4 linked regions of the Homo sapiens genome follow. The protein of the gene in region 1 purifies or fractionates together with the protein of each later gene. This does not show direct contact. Each region holds a gene or a part of one and is shown in the gene's direction. Other genes may lie near its edges.

Region 1 (5,294 bases):
TAGTACCTTATCAGTTAATTGGGCTCCTTTGAAACGCTGAGGATCTGCTTACACAGGTCAACTCCTTGCGGAAGGGGGTTGGGTAAGGAGCCCTTAGTGTCTTGTAAATTAAGGGGTCAATTGGAGTTTGTCTGGCTTTCCCAGCTAGAAAGAGTCTTATTTACAGGAGAAGCAAGGCTAGGTGATTAAAGAGACAAGCAGGATAAAATTCAAAGTAGCGAGTTAGAGTAAAAACAAGGTTAGGCATTTCAAGACAACCATAGCAGCACCCCCTTCCCCAACACACACAGGCACTGATTTTCCCCTTCTTTTTCCGCTTCCCAAGTATATAGATGCCAAATTCCTCTTTCTTAGATGTTGTTTTTTGTTTGGTTACCCCCGTTACCTGGAACTTCTTTTCTTCTTCTTCATCTTTTTTTTTTTGTTTTTTTTTTTTTAAAGACAAGGTCTTGCTCTGTCACCTAGGCTGGAGTTCTGGGCTATAGTGATCCTACCACCTCAGCCTCCCAAATAGCTGAGACCACAGGCGTGTGCCACCATGCCCAGCTAATTTTTTATAGACAGGGTCCTCCCATGTTGTCCAGGCTTGTTTCAAACTCCTGGGCTCAAGCAACCCTCTTGCCTCAGCCTCCCAAAATGCTAGGATTACAGGCAGGAGCCACCGCACTCAACCAAGGTTCTCTCTTATTCCTTTTTTTTTTTTTTAATTATTTTAGATTCATGGGGTACATATGCATATTTGTTACATGGGTATATTGTGTAGTGATGGAGACTGGGCTTTTAGTGTACCCGTTATCCAATAGTGACCCTTATACCTGATAGGTAATTTTCACCCCACCCTCCCCTCTTCAGCTGTCCCCAGTGTCTGTTATTTCTGTCTTCATGTCCATGTATACTATTGATTAGCTCCCACTTGCAAATGAGAACACGTGGTATTTGATTTTCTGTTTCTGGGTTAGTTCACTTAGGATGATGGTCTCCAGCTCCATGTTGCTGCAAAGGACATGATTTCGTTCTTTTTTTATGGCTGCCTCTTTTGTTTCTTAAATCTGAATTTCCATGTGGCTTCAATGCTAGTCTGGCCTACCCTTTCCTTCCCAAAGTCACCACCAACTCACTCCCACCCCCACCTCATGCAGTGCACCCCTCACAGCCCCCACCCTTGGCAGTGACATTTGGATTTCCAGGGCCTTTCCTGATCCTTTAGAGACATCCTCTCCCGGCCAAGTCCTGCAAGGGAGACTTGAGTCAGAGGTTCGATGGGCTGGGGTGAGGTGGGCCACACAATTACCACACCCACTCCCAGGCCTATTCCCGGTGATCTAAGCACACAGAAGCAGGCTGGTACTTAGGGAAGAAGGCACCAGTGTATGCCAGAGCTTAGGATGGCGTGAGGACCAAATGGAAAGATAGATATTGTAAGTGGTTGTTGGGAGAAGGAAGGCTGGAGGTGGGGGTACTTTGTGGGCTGCTTCCAGGAGCTCCCACCCACAGGCACAAGTCTTCCTAGCTGGCAGAAGAAGCCAGGAACAAGGCTGAATTCTGACAGAACCCGCCTGGAGCTCCATTTCAGTTGCAGAGACCTTTATCTTATGCAGCTGTCTTTTGCCCAGCCTCCTCTGCAGATGCCATAGGACCTCCTCTTTCTTTTCTTTTCTTTCTTTTTTTTTGAGACTGAGTCTTGCTCTATGACCAGACTGGAATGCAGTGGCACAATCTCAGCTCACTGCAACCTCCGCCTCCCGGGTTCAGGCGATTCTCCTCCCTCAGCCTCCCAAATAGCTGGGATTATAGGCATGCGCCACCATGCCCAGCTAATTTTTGTATTTTTAGTAGAGACAGGGTTTCACTGTGTTGGCCAGGATGGTCTCCATCTCTTGACCTCGTGATTCACCTGCCTCGGCCTCCCAAAGTGCTGGGATTACAGGCATGACCCACCGTGCCCTGCCAGGACTTCCTCTTTCTTTTTTTTTTTTTCTTTTTTTTTTTTGAGACGGAGTTTCACTCTTGTTGCCCAGGCTGAAGTGCAATGGCACGATCTCGGCTCACCGCAACCTCCGCCTCCCAGGTTCAAGCGATTCTCCTGCCTCAGCACCCCCGAGAAGCTGGGATTACAGGCACGCACCACCACGCCCGGCTAATTTTGTATTTTTAGTAGAGATGAGGTTTCTTCATGTTAGTCAGGCTGGTCTCGAACTCCCGACCTCAGGTGATCCGCCCACCTCGGCCTCCCAAAGTGCTGGGATTACAGGCATGAGCCACCGCGCCCTGCCAGGACCTCCTCTTTCTGATATAACACCTGCATTTGTTTGGCAGACATCTGTGTAGTTCTGTTCACAGGAGAAAAAAGTCAGATTACTAAACACCAGTGTTTAACAGTGGCCATCAGTAGGTGGTAGCTTCAGAGAGTATTTGCTTTCTTATCGACTATGGTTTCATGTATTCTCTGTTTTGTTTTTTACTATAAGCATATTTTGTTTTTATATAAGGGAGAAATAAAGCTCTTCTCAATTGGGAGAAATTACTGCCTGCCTATAATGAATGAGGCCCTGCTGGGCACTGGCTGGGGGCTTGATGAGTAGGATATGGTCCCTGTTTTTGGAGGGTCGTCAAACTAAAGAGGAAAGAAGATAGGGGAACAAAACAGTGCGGTTGGTGTTCTAAGTATCCTCTGATCACAGAAGAGAAAGCTGCCCCTACCCAGGGACATGATCCTGAGCCACCTGGATTGTGAGGGAGAATCAGGCATTGATGAGGAGGGGAATGAGGAAGTAGTCTGCCTACAGGGGACATAGCTCGGCACAGCTCCACAGAGCTAGGGGCTGCAACTTGGGGCATGAGAAGAGAGAGCAGCAAGAGAACCATTTGAGAAGGCTGTCCTTTCTCTGTCATCACTCCTGATGCCCTGGTGAGCTCCACGGTGCAGGAACCTCCATGTGTGTGCTGCATCCCCAAGTTCTGGTGGCAGCAGGTGCTTAGCAGCCCTTGTCCAGTCTCGCCTGTGACACTGCTGCTCCCTTCCCCTGTCCTGACCTCCTGGTTGGCTGTCCTGCCAGAGCCTTGCCTGGAAGATGAAATTCCAGCTACCCTGTGGGAGCAGTAACGCCTTCTTCCTTCTTCTCAATCTCCAGAAATGTCTTTCCTCCAGGACCCAAGTTTCTTCACCATGGGGATGTGGTCCATTGGTGCAGGAGCCCTGGGGGCTGCTGCCTTGGCATTGCTGCTTGCCAACACAGACGTGTTTCTGTCCAAGCCCCAGAAAGCGGCCCTGGAGTACCTGGAGGATATAGACCTGAAAACACTGGAGAAGGGTAAGTGGTGACCCTTCAGGTCTCAGTACTTTTCCAAGGAGCTGGGATACAGGCTTACTGCTTTCTTTCTAAACTCTCTCCTTTTTTTAATTGAAAAGATAATATAACAACATTAGGAAAAATTTAATAACAATTTTTAAACTAGGAATAATTCTGTTACCCTAACACAGTAATTTTGATTTTGGCATATTCCTTTCCATGTGTACATATTACGTAGTTGTGCTTGGCTTAGGTGCTGTTTTACATTTTAGCTTTTCTTATCAAAAGCATTTCTCATTCTCTGTTGTTGTCTCTGTAATTATAATGATAAATTGCTCCATAATATTTAGTAATAATTACAATCTTTTACTAAACCAGTGCTTCCAGAGTGTATTCTGAGGAATTCCAGGCTTGTGGGATCGTCAAACTAAAAGGAGTTCCTGAGTGAACAAGTATGGGAGACACCTTTTATCCAATTCCATGCTCCTGATGCTCAGCACAGACATATGCTTATTAGAATGAGGTGTCTGGATTGCTGCTGATTCAGGCATGGCCAGCCCCTCCCTGTGAAGAAGCTGTGGTGTCTGAGGAATCACTTCAAGGTCACCCGTTAGAGCAGACCTGCCTATCTCCCTCTTCTGGGGGACTGCTAGAATCCATTGTGGACAGCTTAGAGCCACACACCCAAATGTGTTAGCTCTGCCTCCTTGCTGTGTGCTCTCAGTGTTAGAGCTGTAGCTTGGTGGGATTTCAGTCATGCCAGTGGTGTGGCAAGAGAGTTGGAGTGGTGAAGGTCTCATTGATGGCGTGGTCACCATGTTAGCCCCCCAGGTGGAAGTCATCGTCATCTGTTTAGTAAGTAAGGAAGCTTGCGAAAGGAAGGCAGGAGATTGTGCAGGTTTATAGTAGGTCACCTTAGTAAGATACTAGGAGAGAGAGAGACCTGTTAAGCTTTGTTCAACCCAGGGTTTCCCAATCTTATTTGATTACAGACTCTTCTCCCCACCCTCTCACCCACCTGACCCCATTTTTTTTTTTTCCACATAACATCTACGGGAACATGGATCCCTCTGGGAAATACTAAAATAATTAAGGGCTCATATTTATTGAGCCCTCACCAACTCTATATTACCAGACATTGTGGTGAGCACTTTTATATTCATCTTTCAATATGCCCTGTGGCCCAAAGTGGAGCTACTAGATATTTGCATTTTACAAATGAGGAAGCTGAGGTTCAAAGAGCAAAAATAACTTGCCCAGAGTTACACAGCTAGATTCAGATTCAGTTGGACCTTAGAGCTGGGCTTGTTGAACTACAGTACTGTACTACCCCAAAGCATTTTATTCCTAGGCATCTTCTATCCTCTCCTTCGTTAATAATATTGCAGGTAACATATTTAGGTTAAAAATTTGAGACTTTTTCAGTTTGGGCCATGTTTCTGTTCTGAAGGATTATTATACAATATCTGATGACATCAGCAATAGACAAAATGGCCATTTTTCCAGAAATGTCCCACTTCTGAATGTTCAGGTTAGAAAAAAGATTTTCATGGTGGGAGGGACCTACCGGGTATATAACAGGATTCTTAAGCTTGGTTAACTTTCTTCAGGAAGGTGTGTATTCTGTCTGTCTGTGTTTCCTGTGTGTCTTTTCCCACGTGTGAAATGCCTGTCCAGGTCCTCTACTAGGCCGGGTCTCTGACCTTGGCTGGACTTAGTGTGGTTCATGAGCTGCTTAGTGATTGGGGCTGGGCTGGGAGGAGATATCGAATTTCTTTTTTTCCTCTCTTAGAACCAAGGACTTTCAAAGCAAAGGAGCTATGGGAAAAAAATGGAGCTGTGATTATGGCCGTGCGGAGGCCAGGCTGTTTCCTCTGTCGAGAGGTGAGTGCAGATGAGGATCTATTCAGAGAAAGGGATCCTGGCAAGTAGGGGCCATTGTTTTCCGGCCAGAACCAAGGGTCGGTAAGCCAGCTTTAGCCTTTTACCCACATGTTCTGTTCT
Region 2 (5,756 bases), on another chromosome or scaffold:
CTCCTGCCTCGGCCTCCTGAGTAACTGGGATTACAGGCATGCGTCACCACGCCCAGCTAATTTTTTGGATTTTTAGTAGAGATGGGGTTTCACTATGTTGATCAGGCTGGTCTCGAACTCCTGACCTCAGGTGATCCGCCCACCTTGGCCTCCCAAAGTGTTGGGATTAAAGGCATCAGCCATTGCACCTGGCCCTTACTTGCACTTTCTAATGCAAACCAGGCCTGCGCACTGCCTTGGGTCCTAAAATCATTGCATTGACTGGGTCTTCTCAAAATCCTATATCCAAGCATCTTAGGTCTTCAGCTCCACCTCTGAGGACCCACTGGGGAGTCTCAGGAAACAGGGAGGGGTCTTTCATCTCAGGAAAAACATGGAGCTCCTATCTCTACCGCCCACCCCGTGCTCTACCCTTCTTCCTCTCTGCAGAAGGAGCTCAGTGAGGACATCCGAAGGACCCATGATGCAAAGCAGGGCTCCGAGAGCCCTGCCCAAGCAGGGAGAGAGTCAGAGGCCCTGAAGGCCCAGCTGGAAGAGGAGAGGAAGCGGGTGGCCCGGGTGCAGCATGAGCTGGAGGCGCAGAGGAGCCAACTGCTGCAGCTGAGGACCCAGCGGCCCTTGGAGAGGCTGGAGGAGAAGGAAGTGGTAGAGTTCTACCGGGACCCCCAGCTGGAGGGCAGCCTGTCCAGGGTGAAGGCCCAGGTGGAGGAGGAGGGCAAGCGGCGGGCTGGCCTGCAGGCAGACCTGGAAGTGGCAGCCCAGAAGGTCGTGCAGCTGGAAAGCAAGAGGAAGACCATGCAGCCTCATCTGCTGACCAAGGAGGTCACCCAGGTGGAGAGGGACCCCGGCCTGGACAGCCAGGCGGCCCAGCTCAGGATCCAGATCCAGCAGCTCCGCGGGGAGGATGCCGTCATCTCGGCCCGGCTGGAAGGGCTGAAGAAGGAGCTACTGGCCCTTGAGAAGAGGGAGGTGGACGTGAAGGAGAAGGTCGTGGTGAAAGAGGTAGTCAAGGTGGAGAAGAATCTGGAAATGGTCAAGGCAGCCCAGGCTCTGAGGCTGCAGATGGAGGAGGATGCTGCGCGGAGGAAGCAGGCGGAGGAGGCTGTGGCCAAGCTACAGGCTCGCATCGAAGACCTGGAGCGGGCTATCAGCTCGGTGGAGCCCAAGGTCATCGTGAAGGAGGTGAAGAAGGTGGAGCAGGACCCAGGGCTCCTCCAGGAGTCCTCCAGGCTGAGGAGCCTCCTCGAGGAGGAGAGGACCAAGAACGCGACGCTGGCCAGGGAGCTGAGCGACCTGCACAGCAAGTACAGCGTGGTGGAGAAGCAGAGGCCCAAAGTGCAGCTCCAGGAGCGCGTCCACGAGATCTTCCAGGTGGATCCGGAGACAGAGCAGGAGATCACTCGGCTCAAGGCCAAGCTGCAGGAGATGGCGGGCAAGAGGAGCGGTGTGGAGAAGGAGGTGGAGAAGCTGCTGCCCGACCTGGAGGTCCTGCGGGCCCAGAAGCCCACGGTGGAGTACAAGGAGGTGACCCAGGAGGTGGTGAGGCATGAGAGGAGCCCCGAGGTGCTGCGTGAGATCGACCGCCTGAAGGCTCAGCTCAACGAGCTCGTCAACAGCCACGGGCGCTCCCAGGAGCAGCTCATCCGCCTGCAGGGTGAGCGCGACGAGTGGAGGCGCGAGCGGGCCAAGGTGGAGACCAAGACGGTGAGCAAGGAGGTGGTGCGCCACGAGAAGGACCCGGTGCTGGAGAAAGAAGCAGAGCGGCTCCGCCAGGAGGTGCGGGAGGCGGCCCAGAAGAGGCGGGCCGCGGAGGACGCGGTGTACGAGCTGCAGAGCAAGCGCCTGCTGCTGGAGAGGAGGAAGCCCGAGGAGAAGGTGGTGGTGCAGGAGGTGGTGGTCACCCAGAAGGACCCGAAGCTGCGCGAGGAGCACAGCCGGCTGAGCGGGAGCCTGGATGAGGAGGTGGGCCGGCGGCGCCAGCTAGAGCTTGAGGTGCAGCAGCTGCGGGCCGGCGTGGAGGAGCAGGAGGGCCTGCTCAGCTTCCAGGAGGACCGCAGCAAGAAGCTGGCCGTGGAGAGGGAGCTGCGGCAGCTGACCTTGAGGATCCAGGAGCTCGAGAAGCGGCCTCCCACGGTGCAGGAGAAGATCATCATGGAGGAAGTGGTCAAGCTGGAGAAGGACCCGGACCTGGAGAAGTCCACGGAAGCCCTGCGGTGGGACCTGGACCAGGAGAAGACCCAGGTAACCGAGCTGAATCGGGAGTGCAAGAACCTGCAGGTCCAGATTGACGTCCTCCAGAAAGCCAAATCGCAGGAGAAGACCATCTACAAGGAAGTGATCCGGGTGCAGAAGGACCGCGTCCTGGAAGATGAGCGGGCCCGCGTGTGGGAGATGCTCAACAGGGAGCGCACGGCCCGGCAGGCCCGGGAGGAGGAGGCACGGCGCCTGCGGGAGCGCATTGACCGGGCCGAGACGCTGGGGAGAACCTGGTCCCGGGAGGAGTCCGAGCTGCAGAGGGCCCGGGACCAGGCCGACCAGGAGTGTGGGCGGCTGCAGCAGGAGCTGCGGGCTCTGGAGAGGCAGAAGCAGCAGCAGACACTGCAGCTGCAGGAGGAGTCGAAGCTGCTCAGCCAGAAGACGGAGAGCGAGCGACAGAAGGCGGCCCAGCGGGGCCAGGAGCTCTCGCGGCTGGAGGCGGCCATCCTCCGCGAGAAGGACCAGATCTACGAGAAGGAGCGGACGCTCCGGGACCTCCACGCCAAGGTGAGCCGGGAGGAGCTCAGCCAGGAGACCCAGACGCGAGAGACCAACCTTTCCACCAAGATCTCCATCCTGGAACCCGAGACGGGGAAGGACATGTCCCCATACGAGGCCTACAAGAGGGGCATCATCGACAGGGGCCAGTACTTGCAGCTGCAGGAGCTCGAGTGTGACTGGGAGGAGGTCACCACCTCGGGGCCCTGTGGGGAGGAGTCTGTGCTCCTGGACCGCAAGAGCGGGAAGCAGTACTCCATCGAGGCCGCCCTCCGCTGCCGGCGCATCTCTAAGGAGGAGTACCATCTGTACAAGGACGGCCACCTGCCCATCTCCGAGTTTGCGCTGCTTGTAGCTGGGGAGACCAAGCCAAGCTCCTCACTCTCCATCGGCTCTATCATCTCCAAGTCCCCGCTCGCCTCCCCGGCCCCCCAGAGCACCAGTTTCTTCTCTCCCAGCTTCTCTCTCGGGCTCGGTGATGACAGCTTCCCTATCGCCGGGATCTATGACACAACCACAGACAACAAGTGCAGCATCAAGACGGCCGTGGCCAAGAACATGCTGGACCCCATCACTGGGCAGAAGCTACTGGAGGCCCAGGCGGCCACAGGGGGCATCGTGGACCTGCTCAGCCGTGAGCGCTACTCTGTGCACAAGGCGATGGAGAGGGGCCTGATCGAGAACACCTCCACACAGAGGCTGCTTAACGCCCAGAAGGCCTTCACCGGCATCGAGGACCCCGTCACCAAGAAGAGGCTCTCGGTGGGCGAGGCCGTCCAGAAGGGCTGGATGCCCCGGGAGAGCGTGCTCCCACACCTGCAGGTGCAGCACCTGACCGGGGGGCTCATCGACCCCAAGAGGACAGGCCGCATCCCCATCCAGCAGGCCCTCCTCTCCGGGATGATCAGTGAAGAGCTGGCCCAGCTCCTGCAGGACGAGTCCAGCTACGAGAAGGATTTGACAGACCCCATCTCCAAGGAACGGCTGAGCTACAAGGAGGCCATGGGCCGCTGCCGCAAAGACCCCCTGAGCGGCCTGCTGCTCCTGCCAGCGGCACTGGAGGGGTACCGCTGCTACCGCTCCGCCTCCCCCACCGTCCCGCGCTCCCTTCGCTGACACGGGCCAAGGAGCCAGTGGGGAAGTGCGTGTGTTGGGCCAGGTAGGATACGTACACCTCTTGCCTCAGAGCAGCCTCATCCCAGGCAGTGGGTCTTCCCTCTGTCCAACCACTGTTTTATTATTTTACTAACATGGTGATGGGCTCCCTCCCCTAACCTTGGTGCCTGATCCATCCCCAGACCAGGACAGCAGCCACTCAGTTCTTCCTCCACCTCCACCCAGTGATCCCAATAAACGAATTCTGTCTCCCCGTGCCATGTGGTGTCCCATTCATTCACATTTGAGAGTGCAGGACCCATGTGTCTGGGGGATGAGTGCAAGGACAGCGTTGCTCAAGTCCTTGCCTGGGCGGACGTGCTCAATTTGCCTGCCTGGGAAACAGGCATCCTCGGAGGGCTGTGCCTCCTTGAGTGCGGGGCAGGGATGCAGTGGCAGGTCATGGAAAGAGATTATGGTTTAAAATCACTAAAGGAGGCCGGGCACAGTGGCTCACACCTGTAATACCAGCATTTAGGGGGGCCAAGGCGGGTGGATCCGAGGTCAGGAGTTCGAGACCAGCCTGACGAACACGGTGAAACCCCGACTCTACTAAAAATACAAAAATTAGCTGGGTGTGGTGGTGCACACCTAAAATTCCCGCTACTCAGGAGGCTGAGGCAGGAGAATCACTTGAACCTGGGAGGCGGACGTTCCAGTGAGCAGAGATCATGCCACTGCACTCTACCCTGGGCAACAGGGTAGACCTGAGACAGCGAGACTCCATCTCAAAAAAAAAAAAAAAAATGGGGGCTTGGTGGCATATGCCTGTAATCCCAGCTACTCGGGAGACTGAGGCAGGAGAACTGCTTGAACCCATGAGGCAGAGGTTGCAGTGAGCTGAGATTATGTCACTGCACTCTAGCCTGGGTGACAGAGTGAGACTCTGTCTCAAAAAAAAAAAAAAAAAAAAAAAAAAATCATGGACTAGCCCCTGTCTCCCCACCTACTCCTTGCCCATTTCCCCACTGTCTCAGTTTGGGCCAGAGCTGTCTCCAGCCCTGTGTCAATGTTCCCCTTGTCAGGAAGCCCAGGTGTCCCCTGTGAGCAGAACAATCAGAAAACTCAGGAACATACCACGTTTATTTATTGTTGTCAAGCCAGAAATGAACCAAAAGAAGCACATCTCAGGTGAAGGAACAACTCCTTATTGCAGTCATAGCCCAGCTCTCCTGGGATCCGGGGAACGCCCTCTCTCCTCTCCCTCACTCCCTCCTGTTTAACTTGGGACTGAACTGGAACTCAACTCTTCCCCCAAACATTTTAAATCCAAAAAGACCAGCAGGGGGCGCCCTTTCCTCAGGGTCTGGCCCTGCAGGCAGGGCAGGTGAGGGCCTGAATACCCACACCCAGCTCTGGCAGGCCCCCTGCCTTCAACTTGGCACTTGTTCCAGTGCCCGGGGACCCCTCGTGCATGGAGCATCTGTGCCTCTATTTTGAAACGGCACCGTCCAACCCAAAAAACAACACAGGATCTCGCTAACCTGCGGGCAGGACTAACCCAGACTCAGCCCTCTGCAGGCTGATGCTGAATTCCTTAGTGCTTTGCTCTCCCCAGATGCATCCTCTCTTGGCAATGGGTAGGAGGCAGCTGGGGCAGCAGCTGCTCGAGAAAGGATCTGAGTGTGGCCTTGACATTCTCAATGGCGGAATCGCTGCAGCACATACTGGCGGGCAGCTGGGGAGGGCTCAGGGGATGAGAAGTACGGGTGGGCCAGGGCAGTCTTGGCTGTGATCCGCTGGCTGGGGTCATACTGCAGGAGTTGCTAGGAAGAAAGAAGGAAGAAGATGTGGTCTGGGTGCAGCCAGGGTGGGGTGAGAAATTCCCCTCCCAGGTCCCAGATCAA
Region 3 (5,294 bases), on another chromosome or scaffold:
GAGCATAGGCACAGTGCAAACATTCCATATCTCGGTGAGTAATGTGGACTTCGTACCCTATGCAATTTTGTTCTTTGTGTCTTAATCATAAAGGAACCAGCCTAGGTCTCATAAAACCACAAAGGGCCTCTTGATTTGTAACTGATACATGGGGAATTAAACTTTTGCCAGAATGTTAAGTTTAAGGAAGTTATTTTAAAATAAGTGAGTTACTGATGTTAATAGGGTAATAAAATTTTAAAAGCTTCAGTCTGTACTATCTTTGTGGTTCTGAATAGAGGATGAATCCTATTTTTACTGCTTATTTCTGAGAACTTTCAGTAAAATTATATTTGATACAGAATATAAATATGAACATACCATTTATTATTTTCTTTGGAAAAGGCAGACTTATATATAAATATTTAGTATCTTAACCACCCACATTTGTGGAACTGCAAGTGTAACAAAGAGTGATGTAAAAGCAATGTGTAAAGTTGTAAACATTCTGTCTCACGAAGCCATAAATTTTGGATTTCCTATTGTTTGTTCTGCAATGACAAATTAATAAAGTATTGGGTTTGGGATCATCAATAATTAGTAATAAAAACACATTAATTTAATGTGATAGAAGGAAACACCAAGGAATCACTTTATAGTTTCAAAATAAATGGTTGTAGAAAGAAGATTTTCTTTATTTTAGACTTTCCATTTCAACACGGTTGAAGAGGTTCATTCAAGATTCCAGAGTCTGAATGCTGATATCAACAAACGTGGAGCGTCTTATATTCTGAAACTTGCTAATAGATTATATGGAGAGAAAACTTACAATTTCCTTCCTGTAAGTACTTTGCCCTTCACATTCTAAAACCCCACTAGACAGTGCAGATATTTTCCAGCACAATCAAGTCATGGAGGTCAGTTTTAATATTTGTAAACTTTCAGAAAAACAATACAGAAGGCAAACATGGCAAAAACAATATGGAAGGCAAACACGACAGAATGCAAACTTTAATTGACATGGTGATTTTGTGTTACAGTCTTTTTAGTGAAAAGATAGCTCTTGGAGGTTTTACTGAAGCAAGAGTACAATCAGTGTTTGTGAAATCTTAGTCAAAGTTCAGAAAAGAGTGGTAATTTCTATATAACAACAACAGTATAAGGGTTAGGCTTACCACTACTGGAATGCACAGTTAAAAGTGGCTAAGATCGTAAATTTAATGTTAAATGATTTTTACTACTATAAGAAAAACTATAAGAGTTAGAAATTTTGTGTTACATGGAATTGTAGCCTTTTAGGACAATTTCTGTTGCTTTTTGGGATTTTAGAAAACAATTTCTATATGTAGTAGGAGTTATATATATATTTCCTTTTCCTTTTTTTTAATAGGAGTTCTTGGTTTCGACTCAGAAAACATATGGTGCTGACCTGGCCAGTGTGGATTTTCAGCATGCCTCTGAAGATGCAAGGAAGACCATAAACCAGTGGGTCAAAGGACAGACAGAAGGTGAGAGCCTGGGCAGAATGGAATCATTATGCGCTGGTCATGTCATTCGTTTCCTCAGTCCGCCTTCCCTACCTGCAGTTATTCCCTCCCCAGCTCCCACAGTCCTGGCGCACATCGTGGTTACAGTCAGAGGACGCTGCCGGTGCGTGAAGTCTGCACTGCACGTTGCTGGACAGCTCTCACATGTTCGAAGTTCACCAGAGTGGAAACTTAAACATGATTTAACTCAAGCAGCTAAATCCTTTTTTCTCATCAGCTCCCCAAAACTTTTAAAGTTGCATTTCAAAGTTAAAACCAACATTGGCAGGCGCGGTGGCTCATGCCTGTAATCCCAGCACTTTGGGAGCCCAAGGCGGGCGGATCATTTGAGGTCAGGAGTTCAAGACCAGCTTGGCCAACATGATGAAACCCTGTCTCTACTAAAAATACAAAAAATTTAGCCAGGTGTGGTAGCACACACCTGTAATCCCAGCTACTCTGGAGGCTGAGGCAGGAGAATCTCTCGAACACAGGAGGTAAAGGTTACAGTGAGCCGAGATCATGCCACTGTACTCCAGCCTAGGCAACAGAGCGAGACTCCGTCGTAAAAAAAATAATAAAAATAATAAAAAATAAAAAATAAAGTTAAAACCAACACTGAATACAGCAAAAAAGGAATTAAAATTTTGAGGAGAATTCAGCCTGCCAAAAATTACCTAATACTCATATGGAAAGAAATGTCCTGGAATTTCATGGAAATACCTGAAATCAATATTCACAAACTACTGTGGTTGTAAATTTTTTGCCAACATCTTGTCCAGTAAAAAAGTTGTGGTAGGTGGGGACTGACTTGCTTTTAGGGTGCAATTTATTTCTTTGCTACATCTCTCTTCTTACATAGCCCTGTATTAGTCAACCCACTCCAGAAGACCTGTCTTCCATTATGGGAATTGTTCCCAGCCATACTTATGGTCACGAAGGTGACCTTTATTTCCATGGAGTATGTTCTGCTGGTTTTTTTGTTTGTTTGTTTGTTTTTTGTTTTTAAGAGACAGAGTCTTGCTCTGTCGCCCAGGCTTGAGTGCAGTGGTGCGATCGTGGCTCACTGCAGCCTTGACCTCCTGGGCTCAAGGAATCTTCTCATCTCCACCTCCCAAAGCACTGGGACTGCAGGTGTGCGCCACCATGCTTGGTCTTGTTCTGCCTTTTGGATATTGTTTAAACCTTTTTTTGTGAGAGTAGGCATCTACTCAGCGATTTGAAGAAGTGATTTACTGATGACTAAAGATATCTTCATTAAGAATTTTTTTTTTCTAAAAAAGAATGGTTGTTACAAAATAAGGCTCATTGTTTATCATACAGTCCAGAAAAGGAGAATTTTCCTGTCTTTTGTCTTTCGGCACATTTGACTTGTTTAAAATGTCAGGTCCTTGTGGGAAGTTTGTGTGTCATCCTGGTCTGTCTGCCCCACAGGTTGTTATACTTAAAGTAGAGACATGTTAGTGAGTAGGGCTTTCCTAAGTTAATATCTTGTTAAATGAAAATTAAGTAGAAATTATATATTTGAATTGCATTTCCGTGCTAATATATTGTCAGTTCAAATTTGGAATTCCGATTTGGATTTTTTTTACGCTAACTTGATTTTTTTTTAGGAAAAATTCCGGAACTGTTGGCTTCGGGCATGGTTGATAACATGACCAAACTTGTGCTAGTAAATGCCATCTATTTCAAGGGAAACTGGAAGGATAAATTCATGAAAGAAGCCACGACGAATGCACCATTCAGATTGAATAAGGTGAGGTGAGGTAACTGTACAGAGTCATGCATTGCTCTAAAAGAATGCAGAGAATAATTTCAGTGATTTTTTAAAACTGTTCAGAAAGACAGAAAAACTGTGAAAATGATGTATCAGAAGAAAAAATTTGCATATGGCTACATCGAGGACCTTAAGTGCCGTGTGCTGGAACTGCCTTACCAAGGCGAGGAGCTCAGCATGGTCATCCTGCTGCCGGATGACATTGAGGACGAGTCCACGGGCCTGAAGAAGGTATGGCTCCTGGGCTTCATGCTTTGTGGTTCCTCTTGCATGTGTGTGTCGCATGGTAGGTAGGTGCTTGTTAAGTGTTCACTGATGGTGCATTTTCCAGTAGTTTGTCATTCCTTTGTAAATGTAGCCCATCAACACTTACTACACTAAAGCCCAGAGTTAATTTTTTTTTAAATTTACTTATAGAGACAAGGTCTCACTATGTTGTTTAGGCTGGTCTTGACCTCCTGGCTTCCAGCAATCCTCCTGCCTCAGCCTTCTGAGTAGCTGGGACTATAGCTGTGAGCCACTGTGCCCGGCTAACGTTTCATTTTTCAAGAAAGATGGCCAGCTACTTTCAGTGGACACTTGTGATGGGGTCATTAAAGATCTATACTAAATATAATACTGGTTAGTGGCAGCTCATGGAAAGGCTCTTGAATTAGCTTTAGAGGAAATTACAGTAAGATGAGGATTGTTTTACTGAGGAAAAAGATTGAAAAGCCCCAAATAGTGTAGCATATATCTTCATCACGTACTATAAAATTCTATTATTACACTGTTTGTTCTCATCACAATTCATATAGATAGTGAATTAAATTTTCAATGGGTACAAGACAGAAAAAGCCTCATGTGACATGTTAGGCCTATTTACTAGTATGATCTTTGCATGAGGTTTCCATTATATGTAGGGACTCTAGCCTGCTCTGTGCTCTCCGTCTCCTCCCTATCCACCTATTCATCATCCTTGCTATCAGGAAGGGGGTCTAATGTTAATCATTTGCATGTACAGACTTTTAATACATTGTATAACAATCAATGTGGCCTTTCTTTTGGTTGTATTTTTGCATTAGTTTTTTTTCTGATTGTAAAGTGAAAATCTCTAGCCTCTTAAAAGGAATTATCAGCACCATTAGAAGAAGTAGAGTGATGGTTCTATTCCAGTCCAATAGCTATAACAATAGTAATGATAATAGCTGACATTTATGTAGCACTATGGGCCAAGCACTTTATATACATCATTTCATTTAATGCTCTCAACAATCTATAAGGTAGATATAAGTAATGTCCACATCACATTTCAGATGAGGAACTAGCTCCAGTGCATAATCTGCCTTTAAAATTTTTACCTAGGAGCTAAAGTTATTAGATATTACTTCAGCTTCAGTGGGATTCAGACTAAATAGAAGAAATATTTTAAATTTCTTCTAGCACTACTCAACCTGGAAGTAATAGCAGCTGTCATGACCTATCACTGTAATCCATTGTGGTAGGGGTTTAGTAAACCCTGGATGAATGGATGGATGGATGAATGGGTAGATGGATGGGTGGATGGGTGGATGAGTAAATGGGTGGATGGATGATAGATAGGTGGATAGATTGTTGGATGGGTGGGTGGGTGGATAGGTGAATGGATGGATGGATGGGTGGATGGGTAGATGGATGATGAATAGGTGGATAGATGGTTGGATGGGTGGGTGGGTAGATAGGTGAATAAATGGATGGATGGATGGGTGGCTGTGTTGCTGGGTAGCTGGGTGGATGGATGGATGGATGGATGGATGGATGGATGGATGGATGAGTGGACAAATGGGTGGATGGATGGGTGGATGGGTGGGTGAGTGGATGATGGACCCAATGTACAAATCCCTTGAACCTTTGATGACTTGGAACACCACCTCTGCCCTATTTCACCAATTGCCATAATGAAATAAAATGCTCCAAATGGAATCTGTTTTGGCACAAAACATGAAGGAAACTAACTAGCAACTGATATTATGGGTCCATTGATTCAATAATAC
Region 4 (5,751 bases), on another chromosome or scaffold:
CACCAGATGATTCCTCTGACCTTGGCCTAGGCACTGATTTCCATCACTGGGCAATGTTTTTCTCTTTCTGTATCTTAAATGGAGCATGTATTTCATTATATACCCTAGCTTGTGTTCCCCCAAAACTGAGCCTAAGACAATATCTTATGTGAAGCTAGTTTCTTTGAGAATGTAATCATAGAAAAGAGGAATGTGAAATAAACAGGGGTGAAGCTAGGCAAAAGGAAAAATCAATATATACAAAGAATATGTTACTAAGTAGGCAACCAGGAAGGGTGACTGGAACTTGATCCCCAGGATCTCAGCTGACAGAGAACTATGTCACAGAAGGGTTTCCCCTAGAAATGAAAGAGGAAAGCATTATCTACCAGTTCATGTCCTCCATTGGTGGAGTGTGGCCACTAGATGCTAACACTGAACTTCAAGCTTGCATATCCACAAGTGCATTACAGATTCCTACAGACAGCTCACGCTGGGGCATCAGAGGCCCTCAGGTGAGGAAAGAAGAGGCAGAACTCTAGGCAATGTGTGTGAGTGGTCCACATAGCCATGGTAGAAAACAAGAGCAAGATCCAGAAGATTTGGAGAGTGCCTAAGAGGCACCCAGTACCATCCACACACAAGTCCCAAGAAAGTCCCAGGACAGTGCAGTTGGATGACTCACAGCCTCCTGCCACCAGAGAAGGGAGCCAGTGGGAAAGACTAAGGTACCTGGGGAAGTGGGACTCGCCTTCAGAAGCCACTCAATGTATCCTCTCTAAAACTGAGGCCAGACTTACCAGCACACCCAACACTGCTCATGAGAAAACAAAGCTTCTCTGAAAGAGGCTTAACGTTCAGGCGCTGAGTGTGTTTGACTAAACAGGAATAACAGGGTTGGGGTAAAACGAGAATTTCAATAAGCTGATGGCAGAGAAGCTTTTGTTGGGGTGAATGAGGCAAGAGTTAGAGAAGGGCAGGAGAGAGCCCGCCCAGGGAAGGGACACAGGAAATCAGAAAGGAATTTCCTCTAGAACCAAGGTGCAGAATCGAGGAAGAAAATGAGGGAGACCAGGATTCATAGAGGAGCTTCCTTCCTCTGGGGAGGAAAATCCCAGGTGGAGCAGCAGGGTCTAGCCGAAGCCCCCAGGGTCTGTGGCTCCTGAGAGGTGGATTTGCTGAGGAGAGAAACCTGGACCCAACACTGAAAAAGAGCTAATGTGATGACAGAGCCCAGAGTTTAGGCATGGCAGTGGCCCTGGCCCATCCCAGAGGGAAGTGGCCGGTCAAACAAATGCTAGCAGAGAGGGAAGGACATGGGTGTGGAAGGGAGGGTAAGCCTCTTCTCCTTCATGAATTATCAGCTCACACCTCTTCTCAGCTCACACCAGGAGGCCTGGCACAGGACAGTGAATCATGCCCAAGAAACTGCCTTGTGGCTTCCTGCCTTCCTCCCTCCCTCCCTATCTTTCCTCTTTTCTTTTCTCTTTTCTTTTCTTTTCCTTTCCTTCCCCTCCCCTTCCTTTCTTCCTTCCTTTCTTTCTTTCTTTCCTTCTCTCTCTCTCTCTTTCTTTCTTTCTTTCCTTTCTTCTTTATCTATCTCTGTTTCTTTCTCACTTCCTTTCTCCCTTCCATGAACCTACAGCTCTATTCAGGAGAACAATGACTGTCCATTGACTTAACACCCATGATAACCAGGCACTGTGTGACGCTGAAGTAGAACAAGGGGCTTTCAGAACCTGGTGGAAGGAGCTGGGCATCAGGTTCAAGGGAGTAACACAGTCGTGGAACATTGGGAAAGGAGGAGCTATTCACATGCCTGAGATGTAAGGATGTCTGGATTTTCCAAGGGCCGCGTCTAGTAAGAGAGTGTGTATTGAGGGCAACTCTGAGTTAGTGACTTGAGGTTCATCCTGTAGTGATCAGAGGAAATGGCTGGTGTATGAACCTAGGGAATCAGCACGCTCCTCTTCCTATGTCACTCCTGGAGAAGAAAGATACCACAAGAGGCAGGGTCTTCAGGGCTGAGCCACAATGTCACACAGATCCAGTCAATCCTGCCTGTCCATCTCAATGACATCTACTATCCCTGATCAACACGGCACCTTAAGGCGCCCTTCACAGTGAAAGCAACTTATTTCCAAAGCAGGCATTTTGCCTTCCATTGCTCCTCCCAGGTCCAAATCCAGTAAGAGACTGAAAATCAGATGATTCACTTATTCTGCACCATCCCCATGGCCTCGCAGAACCAGAAATGCCTATTGTTATTTCCATGTCCACTTCAACCATGAGGAAGCCCAATAGGACTAATCTGGCTAAAGATTAGGGCCCAGGCCAAGAGGCCTGGCTCGTTCTAGTCCTAGGAGCATGGTACTTCCTCCTAATTTAATCCATTGCCATTCAAGAAGACCTTTGCCCACAGCAACCACACCACAAAGGGTGGACAGTGAGTCAGGCCCAGGTGACATCACTGTCAGAGCTTAAGTGACAAAAAATGTTAAGCCAGAGATACTTATCACAAAAGCTGGAATGAAGTTAGAGCAGTCTTTTAAAAAATCCAATTTTCTTAAGGCAGGGCTCATTTTCTATATAAATACCAGCTAACAAGAGACTCTTCACCAGATCCCAGAGGCTGAACACCTCGACCTTCTCTGCACAGCAGGTGAGTCTCCGCATTAGGAACACCTTAATATTCTCCAATAGTTTCTTTATTTTGATTGAGATCTCTTTGCTATGCAATGAATATATTTATTTTAAATGCAATAACGACTTTTGTTTAAGGTGACCTTATACATATTTTGACTTTCCACTCAGATTACAGGTGTGGAACTTAGGATCAGAAAAGGGGAGTGATTTCTGTAAAGGCTTGCTAAGTTAGCAAGACAATATACCCACTTCAAGAGCACTCTCCTGTCAACATGTATTGAAAATTTTTAATATAGAAGGCACTACATTGGCAATTTTGATGATCAAAAGATAAGTTTTTCTTTATTGCATGAATGTATAATCCATTAGAAAACATATACTTGACTAAAATTTGCAAACATACAGCATGGGGAGTGATTAGCAGAGAGGGAAAGCAAGTATCATGCTGTGGCAAAACGAGGAAGGTGAGAGCATCAGGAAGGACAGCCATGAGAGGTGGGCATGTGTGGGGAGGCAGCGATGATGTGGAGAGCCTGCCAGAGAGCATGTGCAGCAGGCACAGTGTGAACAGAGGCTCCCAGGTGGATTGTGGGAGCCTTAGGGGGAAGTTTAGATAAGAGTTCTCCTGGGAGAACTATCGCACTCTATAAGGAGGACATGAGTGAGTAGATTCTAGACTGCTGACCTTAAAATCTTTCCAACTTATGGAAAAACTGAGGTGTCACATCAATCTTCAGCCAATGACACACAGCCAAGAGTGGTATTAAAAGTGATTTAATCAGGGAAGAGCAAGAAACATGCATTTCTTTTCACTCAATTCCTCAGATGATCCCTGAGCAGCTGAAGACCAGAAAAGCCACTAAGACTTTCTGCTTAATTCAGGAGCTTAGAGGATTCTTCAAAGAGTGTGTAAGCGAAAGCTTCAGAGTATATATTTGCATATTTGTATGTGTTTTCATGTTGTACGTAGGTTTTTAGATGTACCAGGAAGAAAAGAAGCATAAAGAAAGGCTCCATTTACACGATGTGGAAGAAATCAACTTTACCTTATTCTCTGGAAGATAAGTGGGGATCACCAAAGCATCCCATGATCTCAAATTCAGGGAAAAAGAAAGAAAAGAGAGGCTCTCAGTTCTGAAGGAGAATGAAATGACAGATATTTGTCATTAAACTGGGCTTCATTCCTACTTAATCAAAGCACTGAATTAGCTGTTTTGTCTCTAGGTCCAGCATCCTTTGAAGCATGAGTTCTTACCAGCAGAAGCAGACCTTTACCCCACCACCTCAGCTTCAACAGCAGCAGGTGAAACAACCCAGCCAGCCTCCACCTCAGGAAATATTTGTTCCCACAACCAAGGAGCCATGCCACTCAAAGGTTCCACAACCTGGAAACACAAAGATTCCAGAGCCAGGCTGTACCAAGGTCCCTGAGCCAGGCTGTACCAAGGTCCCTGAGCCAGGCTGTACCAAGGTCCCTGAGCCAGGTTGTACCAAGGTCCCTGAGCCAGGCTGTACCAAGGTCCCTGAGCCAGGTTGTACCAAGGTCCCTGAGCCAGGCTACACCAAGGTCCCTGAACCAGGCAGCATCAAGGTCCCTGACCAAGGCTTCATCAAGTTTCCTGAGCCAGGTGCCATCAAAGTTCCTGAGCAAGGATACACCAAAGTTCCTGTGCCAGGCTACACAAAGCTACCAGAGCCATGTCCTTCAACGGTCACTCCAGGCCCAGCTCAGCAGAAGACCAAGCAGAAGTAATTTGGTGCACAGACAAGCCCTTGAGAAGCCAACCACCAGATGCTGGACACCCTCTTCCCATCTGTTTCTGTGTCTTAATTGTCTGTAGACCTTGTAATCAGCACATTGTCACCCCAAGCCATAGTCTCTCTCTTATTTGTATCCTAAAAATACGTACTATAAAGCTTTTGTTCACACACACTCTGAAGAATCCTGTAAGCCCCTGAATTAAGCAGAAAGTCTTCATGGCTTTTCTGGTCTTCGGCTGCTCAGGGTTCATCTGAAGATTCGAATGAAAAGAAATGCATGTTTCCTGCTCTTCCCTCATTAAATTGCTTTTAATTCCAGTCTTGGCTGTGTGTGTCATTGGCAGAATCTTCCTCCTTCCTTGTTTCCCCATTGTGAGTCAGGACCTATAGACAGAGAGGAGTTGATGTAGAAGTCATCTATTTAACCCCAGTACTGTTTGTTTCTATGGGTGTATGGGGTTACAGTTGAGGTGTTCCTGGAATGGCAATGGGCCTGGTGTGATGTTGAATAGAAGTTGTCACTTTGGGCAGCCACAGGCTCTCCTCTTGCACTGGACTGAGTCATGCCTGACTCCAAGCCACCTGTTCCAAGACACCTCTGATCCTCAGTATCCTGACAACAAATCTCCTGTTTGTTCCAAGAAAACTTTACTCCTACATATTTTGACTGGACAGTCTATTTTTCTTCATTTGTTTTACCTTCTAGATACCCCACCACACACATACACACACACACACACGCACACACACACACAGAGTCATTCACAAAGAGAAACATTCATTTTAAATAGCCACACAGTCACATAATCATTCACACAAGCTCTACCCTCTCTAGCTCAATGTTATTTTTTCTAAGTAACTCTTATGTGCAGAGATCCCTAAAGATGGACCAGCAAGAGAGAGAGAGGAGGATACGCAGCACCTCCCTTGTAGAATTTGCAGTCTTGTTTACGAGTTAGGATATTCATGCCCTTCTAATACAAATGAGTACACAACCATACACACAAACACACACACACACACTCCCAGTGGTGTTCCAAAATAACCCTCAGAAATCTATTAAGTGATTTTTATTTTATTATTATTATTATTATTATTATACTTTAAGTTTTAGGGTACATGTGCACAATGTGCAGGTTAGTTACATATGTATACATGTGCCATGCTGGTGCGCTGCACCCACTAACTCATCATCTAGCATTAGGTATATCTCCCAATGCTGTCCCTCCCCCCTCCCCCCACCCCACAACAGTCCCCAGAGTGTGATGTTCCCCTTCCTGTGTCCATGTGTTCTCATTGTTCAATTCCCACCTATGAGTGAGAATATGCGGTGTTTGGTTTTTTGTTCTTGCGATAGTTTACTGA

The links.
Region 2: the proteins of PRXL2A (region 1) and EVPL purify together in Homo sapiens (affinity purification with mass spectrometry; one large-scale study listed by BioGRID and IntAct). This does not show direct contact.
Region 3: the proteins of PRXL2A (region 1) and SERPINB1 purify together in Homo sapiens (affinity purification with mass spectrometry; one large-scale study listed by BioGRID and IntAct). This does not show direct contact.
Region 4: the proteins of PRXL2A (region 1) and SPRR3 purify together in Homo sapiens (affinity purification with mass spectrometry; one large-scale study listed by BioGRID and IntAct). This does not show direct contact.

What each region holds. Positions count from the first base shown.
Region 1 is NC_000010.11:80,417,335-80,422,628, forward strand, and holds part of PRXL2A (peroxiredoxin-like 2A isoform 1 precursor), read left to right. Parts: intron 1-2,665; exon of another isoform or gene 2,666-3,131; 5' UTR 3,132-3,133; coding exon 3,134-3,311; intron 3,312-5,082; coding exon 5,083-5,174; intron 5,175-5,294. UniProt on the Homo sapiens protein: Involved in redox regulation of the cell. Acts as an antioxidant. Inhibits TNFSF11-induced NFKB1 and JUN activation and osteoclast differentiation. May affect bone resorption and help to maintain bone mass.
Region 2 is NC_000017.11:76,005,217-76,010,972, reverse strand, and holds the end of EVPL (envoplakin), read left to right. Parts: intron 1-429; coding exon 430-3,870; 3' UTR 3,871-4,128; downstream 4,129-5,756. Other genes in the region: CDK3 (cyclin-dependent kinase 3), read right to left, coding at 5,550-5,675. UniProt on the Homo sapiens protein: Component of the cornified envelope of keratinocytes. May link the cornified envelope to desmosomes and intermediate filaments.
Region 3 is NC_000006.12:2,834,075-2,839,368, reverse strand, and holds part of SERPINB1 (leukocyte elastase inhibitor), read left to right. Parts: exon of another isoform or gene 1-34; intron 35-682; coding exon 683-820; intron 821-1,369; coding exon 1,370-1,487; intron 1,488-3,118; coding exon 3,119-3,261; intron 3,262-3,345; coding exon 3,346-3,513; intron 3,514-5,294.
Region 4 is NC_000001.11:152,999,153-153,004,903, forward strand, and holds SPRR3 (small proline-rich protein 3), read left to right. Parts: upstream 1-2,596; 5' UTR 2,597-2,641; intron 2,642-3,450; exon of another isoform or gene 3,451-3,534; intron 3,535-3,849; 5' UTR 3,850-3,868; coding exon 3,869-4,378; 3' UTR 4,379-4,704; downstream 4,705-5,751. UniProt on the Homo sapiens protein: Cross-linked envelope protein of keratinocytes.